2 linked regions of the Homo sapiens genome follow. The protein of the gene in region 2 interacts with the protein of the main gene of each other region in a pairwise test. Each region holds a gene or a part of one and is shown on either strand. Other genes may lie near its edges.

Region 1 (3,090 bases), on a different chromosome or scaffold from region 2:
GAAGCCCCTCGAAGGCAGGCATTCTATTTTGCTCATCATAGGATTCTCAGCACTCAGCATTTTGCCTGCAAGACCATGGTGCTGAATAAATGTTGGCTGACTGAATCCCTAACAGATGAACAAACAGATTAAGTAGCCAATGGATCAATCAATGACAACTGCTGAATGGCTCAAGCTGCAATCATTTTTGGTCCCGATCTTCCAACTGGGGATTCCGAGCATCCCTGTGGGTAGTGTAGAGTCTTATGCCTTCGTGGCCAGCTGCTCCGTAACTCTGAGGACTCTGGGAGAAGCCACCTTGATAGGAAAGGTGACTGACCTGACACCCCTGTGAGAACGTAAGCCCTGGGAGAGCAGGAAAATGCCTACTTTATTCATTGCTCTATCCCAGCATCTCAAACATAAAGCACCTGGCACAAAGCAGTGCCCAATTAATATTGGTTGAGTAAGTGAATGGCATCTTCCCCTGCCAAGTCCTACATAATGGCCTTCTCTAGGAGATGAAGTGGAGACAGAGCCCAGAGCCCTCAAACCAGAAGCAGGAGCCCTCTAGAGCCTCTAGGTGACACTGGACAGTTTATGCCTGCAAACAAGATGCTGCTAAGTTCAACTTCCTCTGCCAACAGATTTAAAGGAAGAGTTCACGCTCCTGCAAGGTCTGGGAGAGAATGATGAAGGTCATGTGATTTGCCTTTATAGGGCGTTTTGCAGCTTTCAAGGTGAGTGTATCTGCAAGGGAGGTACCGCCACTCCCAGTTTACAGATGAGGAAATGGAAGCTCAGAAAGAAGAAGTGACTTCCAGTACCCTTAGAGACTTTTCTGGCAACACCTGGCACTGCCCCCTTTAGGTCCTTCTAGCAACTGATCATAGAACTGGAAGTCTAGTTTCTCCCACTCCCTCTGGCACAGAGAGCCTTCACCTGTCCTTCACCCACCTGGTCCCAGGTGTCCAGAAGCATGACGTCATCCGTTGCCAGGTCTTCCTGCATGAGCTCACCAGGAACCTCTTCGATCTGGGAAGGAACGAAAGAGCATCAGTGAGATGTCTTCCCTCCCCTGGGTGGCCTTCCTTTATCTGCCCCCTGAGGGAGTGGCACAGCTGGCTGCAGCTGGCAGGGGGCCCCTTCCTCTGTGCCACACCATCAGAACTGTTTCTCCTGCCCCTGCTGCCGGCCAGTCCTGTGGAACTCGCCTCCCGAGGGGAAAGCAGAGGTGTGACCTCCGCAGGGGCTCACCACAAAACGTCCAATCTTGTTGGAGCAGGCAAAGAGGCGAGGAGGATGGGCATCCATCTTCTTGTCCTTCAGCCGTGGGGATGTGCGGTAGGCAGCCTTCCCGCCCAGGGCCTCCCAGAAGCCATCTGTGAGGGGAGGCCACGCCAGTTGCCAAGGGACGCCATCACCCCTCTCTCCCATCTCATCGGACCCTGGGACCAGCCCTGCCCAAGCGCAACCAACTGCTCTCCCTCTCCTCCCTCCATCCTAAAAATCCCAGGAGATCCAGAGGGAAGAGGCCTGAGGGAATTGGAAGGTGACGAAATAGAGGCCCAGAGAGGGCAGACTTGGCAGTAGTCACACAGCCAGGACCACTATTGGCTTGAGGCTGACGACAGCATTGCGGGATGAGGACCATTAGCTCCACTCAGCTAATGAGGCAGTTGTGGCTCGGAGAGGTTAAGCAACTCACTCAAGGTCACACAGATGGTAAGTGTTAAGACCAGGATACAAATCTTGTCTGATTCTAACACCTATACTCTTTCCACTATACCTGCTCTGTCCATGTGCAGCCATTTAAATTTAAATTCATTAAAATTAAATTCGACTAAAAGTTCAGTTCTTCATTCCCACTAATTCCCACTGGTCGCATTTCAAGTGCTCAACAGCCACATGTGACTAATGGCTGTCAAATTGGACTCGGCAGATACAGAACATGTCCATCTGCATAGAAGGTTCTGCTGGACAGAGCTGCTTTAGACCAAGTCACTCTTCACCATTTCTGTTAAGCATCAAGCAGGTGGGAATGAACTCAAAGTAACAGTATAAAGACTGCAGGCTGGCAGAAGGAAGAGCTGCCCGGCCCACATTCTGGAAACAGAGCAGGCTGGTGGCATTTCTGTCCATGGAGAGTCTAGAGATGCAAGGAGACCACTGCTCCTCTGACGCTATCAGCCCTGCCTACCACCTTTCAAGGCTTCCTAGCGAGGGACCGCCTCCTTCCACAGACCAACTGCTCCTTCCCACACTGGGCTCTCCTTTCTTTCTTTCTTTCTTCTTTTTGAGACAGAGTTTTACTCCTGTTGCCCAGGCTGGAGTGCAATAGCGTGATCTCAGCTCACCGCAACCTCCAACTCTCGGGTTGAAGTGATTCTCCTGCCTCAGCCTCCCGAGTAGCTGGGATTATACAGGCATGTGCCACCATGCCCGGCTAATTTTGTATTTTAGTAGAGATGGGGTTTCTCCATGTTGGTCAGGCTAGTCTTGAACTCCCGACCTCAGGTGATCCGCCCGCCTTAGCCTCCCAAAGTGCTGGGATTACAGGCATGAACCACCACGCCCAGGCTAGGCTCTCCTTTCTTTAGCTCCTGGAGACCTCCCTCTCTCTGGCCACAGCCCTCATTTTAATGCAACTGCTTTTATTTAACATACATTAGGGGACAGGCCCTCAGGTGGGATGGAGGGGAGGATTTAGAGCCCCCAAGCTGAAGGAAAGAAGGGGGAAACTTAATAGCTGCATCCGGACAGCAGCAGGCCCCCCACCCCGGCTCCTACCTGGCTCGCTGCCTTCTGCCACCTGCACAGGTTGGGCCCGCAGCACCCTGAGCAGCTCCTGGGCCCCCGTCTTCTCTGCCTCGCTGGCTCCTGTACCCACCCACAGGTAGGCGGCTGAGGGGGTTTTCAGAACAAAGGCATCGTTGGAGTTCAGTGCACCAGCCTTAGGCAATACCTGGGAGGGTACAGCTTGGTTAATCAGGAACCAGACAAAAAGCCCTCAGCCCCCTCCTCACAGCCCAGGAGACCCCGCAGCAGGACTAGCTCTCAGGTGGGGACTTGGAGGAACACAGCCCATCAGAGCTGAGGGCACAGACTTTG
Region 2 (3,988 bases):
TTGCAGTAATTAGATACACTATTGTAGAAAAGTATTGATGAAATGGAACGATGTTTGAGATATCATATTGAGTAGAAAAGGCAAGATACATTAAGTAGGAAATGTATCTTACAAAATAATTTGTCAGACACACTCCTATATTTGTATGTTATATAAATGCGTATGTGAAGAAAGGCTAGAGGATGAGACCACAGTCTTCGGTGAAGTTTAAGAGATGAGGCTGCAGCATGCTCAGAAAGGCCTGGGTTATAGTTCTTCCAGTAATTAAGGATGTGATCTTGGGTAAATTGTCCATCCTCTCTAAACTGCACCACCTTTTGTCTGTAAAACAGGAAGGATGGTATTTACCCCCAGGGTCATCAAAGGATTTGGTTGGAGAAAAATAAATAAATGGGCTGAGCCCAGACCTGGCACAGTGAGAGCACAGTGGTTGACTATTGTGCTGGCCTGTTGTTCCTGTGTTATTGACATGCTGCTGGTGGTGGTCCAGAAGCTATTACCTTAATTGGTTATGTGGATTTCCCCTCATACTGAGCAGCTGTGTGTGGTGTTGTAAAACATAGCCATACACAGTAACTGACAAGGGCAAATGTGATGGAAAAATGCAAGGAAGTGCAGATAAATAGCTAATGGGCTGTAGAAGGAAGCTAGTCCTTGGAGGGCTTGATCAAGGAAGGTCCTTTTGCATGTCACCTTTGAAGAAGAGGGGACATAGAAGAGGTATAGTGCATCCCGGAGTGTACCTGGAAGGGAACATGAAAAGAGGACATTTTTCTCTGGGACATGGGGACTCCACTTGCATGAACTCTGGAATTGGGGCAAAGAACCATCATGAGAACAAGGGCTTCCTTGAACCTCCCAGGCTCATTGGCTGATCTAAACCCTGTGTCCCCTCTTTCCTTCACTCTCCTCTGTTTTCTATACCTGTATTATTGGACTGGACTGGAAGCCACCTGATCTATCACAAGTACCTTGAAATGTGTTGAATAGGTGTGGCACAGTCCTTAGCAGAGTGGCACTACCCCCACAGGAATTTGTTTATACCGTTGGCATGGAAAATAGCAGGAAATGAGTGATCACTGATAACTGAGGATGCTATTTATTATTGGCCAAAGGAATACTTGTGTTGTATTTGCATAACCACTCACAAACTGTTGATTACAAATGAGTACCAGACCTAGCTCCTTCAAGTAAAGGATCCTGAGAACTGAAGGCAAACAGAGCTCCAGGAGTCCAAGACAGAGCCACAGACCACGAGGATCCCTGGCCCAGGTAGGTGGTCCTCCTGCACTGGCTTTCAAGGCCAACAGGATGGATGGGGAAGTAGAGTAGCATCTGGCCATCTAGACCCTTGCTTTTTATCCCCACTGGAAGCACATCTGAATTTCTAAATATGATCTCTGAGACCTGCCCAGAACACCTTGCTCTCAGCCCCAGTAGCAGCCTGCTCTCTCCCAGGAGGGCTTCCACTAACAAGTAGGGCATTGCTGGAGGGCCAGGCAGACACTAGCTTAGGAAATCCACCAACCCTGGAAATGCTAGTCCCTTCTCTGAAGGCTCAGAAGACTGACTTTAGAGTCTAGAAAATATTGGTCCTTGGGAACAGATTTTGAGTGCAAAGAGATGGACTTCAGATGGCCAGATGCACTGCTTCTTTAGGGAATTCTGTGAAAGCTCCCTGCATTTATCTTAATACAGGCAGCAGATTTCATGAGTACCCCCGAGGGATGGCCCCAGGTCCTCCAGCCTGTGAGCATCCTTCTGTCCTTCAGCAGCACCACAGTATCTTTATATGTCTTTGGATACCTACGTTTCTGCCAGACATCTCTTGCTCTGATGTTCTGGCTGCCAAATTCTCTGTCAAGCGCCTCCAATTTTTTGTGTCCTTTGATTTACCCCAACATGACAAAGGCAGTTGTGCTTCATGTATTCAGGGATACTGCCAAACCACAAACAGGTTAAAATCAAATAGCAGATATCCCTGTTCCTAAAGACCCATCAGCTCTACCCACCTGCTCCTGCTCACCGTCCTTATTGTTGAGTCCTGAAGCCCTTCCTTGTCATTTTTATTTTTTGCATGAACAATTTAGTTCCCTTTGTCTCACTCCTAAACCTTTCTCAAAGGATTGGATTTGTACACAAACTGCCTATCTCTGCAATCTTAGAAGTGATATGATTCTGAACAAATCACTTAACTTTTGATTTTTTATCGGTAAGATGGGAATACCAATTTTTGCTCCACTTCTGTCCTATGTTGGCCTGGGCTGATGTTGAAAGCTCTCGGTCAACTGAGATAGGGTGTGCAGAATTTATATATATAAATATATCTCCTCCAACCCCTCCCAATGAAGCAAGTCACGTGAGTCAATCCTACCCTAAGATATTAGGGATTGAGCCTCCTGGGACATTTGGTGGCTTAGGTTTTCATGAAAAGAGGTTGCAGAGCAACTGCTTTTTGTTAGGCAAAGATTAGGCTACTGCAGAGACTCAGCAAACTTCTATAGAAGGTGTCAGATGGTAAGTATTTTAGGCTTTGCTTGCCAGATGATCTCTCAACTAGTTAACCATGCTATTGTAGCCTCGAAGCAGCCAGAGACAATATGTAAACAAGAGCATGGCTGTGTTTCAATAAAACTTTATTTAAAAAAACAGTCAGGGACCGGATTTGGCCAAAGGCCATAGTGTGCCAGCCCCAAGACTAGAGCAATGCACTTTTAACTTTTTTATTTTATTTTTGTAAAATGCCAAGATCCACAAAAATGCTATTGCACCCCGTGTGTTAGCACTGTGACTCAAGGTTTGGGAAATTCTGCTTTGAAGGCGTGATAGACAGGAGAGCATGGTCTGGCCCCTTGGTGCCTTTCTGGTTGCAGCGAGCATTTCAAACTACAGAGCAAGGCCAGTGGTCTGTTCAGCACTAGAGACATGCAGCAAGGTGTCCTGGGGTGAGAAGATGCCATAACTGGTCCCCTTTCTATCTCCTTAGGTCTTGGACTTCATTCCATTTTCTGTTGAGTAATAAACTCAACGTTGAAAATGTCCTTTGTGGGGGAGAACTCAGGAGTGAAAATGGGCTCTGAGGACTGGGAAAAAGATGAACCCCAGTGCTGCTTAGAAGGTAAGGTTCTTGTAGAAATCTACCTCAGGGCCAAAGTGTAATTCCTAGAGCAGAACTTTGCTAGGTGCTGTGCACAGACCCAGTTGTTTCCTGCTGACTTGCACAGTAAGTGAGCTTTCAAATTTCCCTGGACAAATAACTAGACAAGAGAAATTCTGGAAGGGAAAAGGAAGCTTTGCTTCAGTGTCCAGGCACATCAGGTAGTAGATAAAAGGATCGTCCTCACCTACAGATTTGGGGCTTTAGCATCCTGTTTGCCAACTGGATGGTTGCATATGCTTCAAAATGCACCTCTTCCCTCCCAACATTCCCAAGTGGAAGAGAAGCCTCCGATGAGAAGCAGCTCTCTAAGGCTGGGCTGAACAAATGACCCAGGCACAGGGCATCTGAGTATTCCATGAGGAACACATTTGGGTGTTGCCCATGGGGGACAATAGGAGGAGGCTTTTGACCCAAATGATTGTCTACTGAGGTGTGACGGGAGAGGCCTGTGACATGCCAGAGGCCAAACCCGTGATCCAGTTCATCTCTATTCTATGTTTCTGAAGAGGGAAGCTATGATTTAATGTCATTACTATCATGCTGCTCTAGTATTTCTCAGCACATACACAGAAGAGGGAATTAAATGGTCTTTGATACCCCTAAATCCTTGGAAAATCCGAATTGCATATGCTAACCTCACTGCGTCTGACTGCAGACCCGGCTGGAAGCCCCCTGGAACCAGGCCCAAGCCTCCCCACCATGAATTTTGTTCACACAAGTAAGGCCTCGGGGTGAGGTGATGGGGGTGGCTGAGGTGCGAGGGTGGGGATGGGGGATGGAGCCATTGGGTCCTCTTACAGGGTGGGAGAATTGTAGAATGGGGACACC

The links.
Region 1: the proteins of IL37 (region 2) and GSN interact in binary tests that used the Homo sapiens proteins (3 or more experiments, as listed by UniProt).

The regions. Positions count from the first base shown.
Region 1 is NC_000009.12:121,327,162-121,330,251, reverse strand, and holds part of GSN (gelsolin), read right to left. Parts: intron 2,945-3,090; coding exon 2,770-2,944; intron 1,362-2,769; coding exon 1,237-1,361; intron 1,015-1,236; coding exon 937-1,014; intron 1-936. UniProt on the Homo sapiens protein: Calcium-regulated, actin-modulating protein that binds to the plus (or barbed) ends of actin monomers or filaments, preventing monomer exchange (end-blocking or capping).
Region 2 is NC_000002.12:112,909,977-112,913,964, forward strand, and holds the start of IL37 (interleukin-37), read left to right. Parts: upstream 1-1,188; 5' UTR 1,189-1,272; intron 1,273-2,986; 5' UTR 2,987-3,036; coding exon 3,037-3,118; intron 3,119-3,815; coding exon 3,816-3,878; intron 3,879-3,988. UniProt on the Homo sapiens protein: Immune regulatory cytokine that acts as a suppressor of innate inflammatory and immune responses involved in curbing excessive inflammation.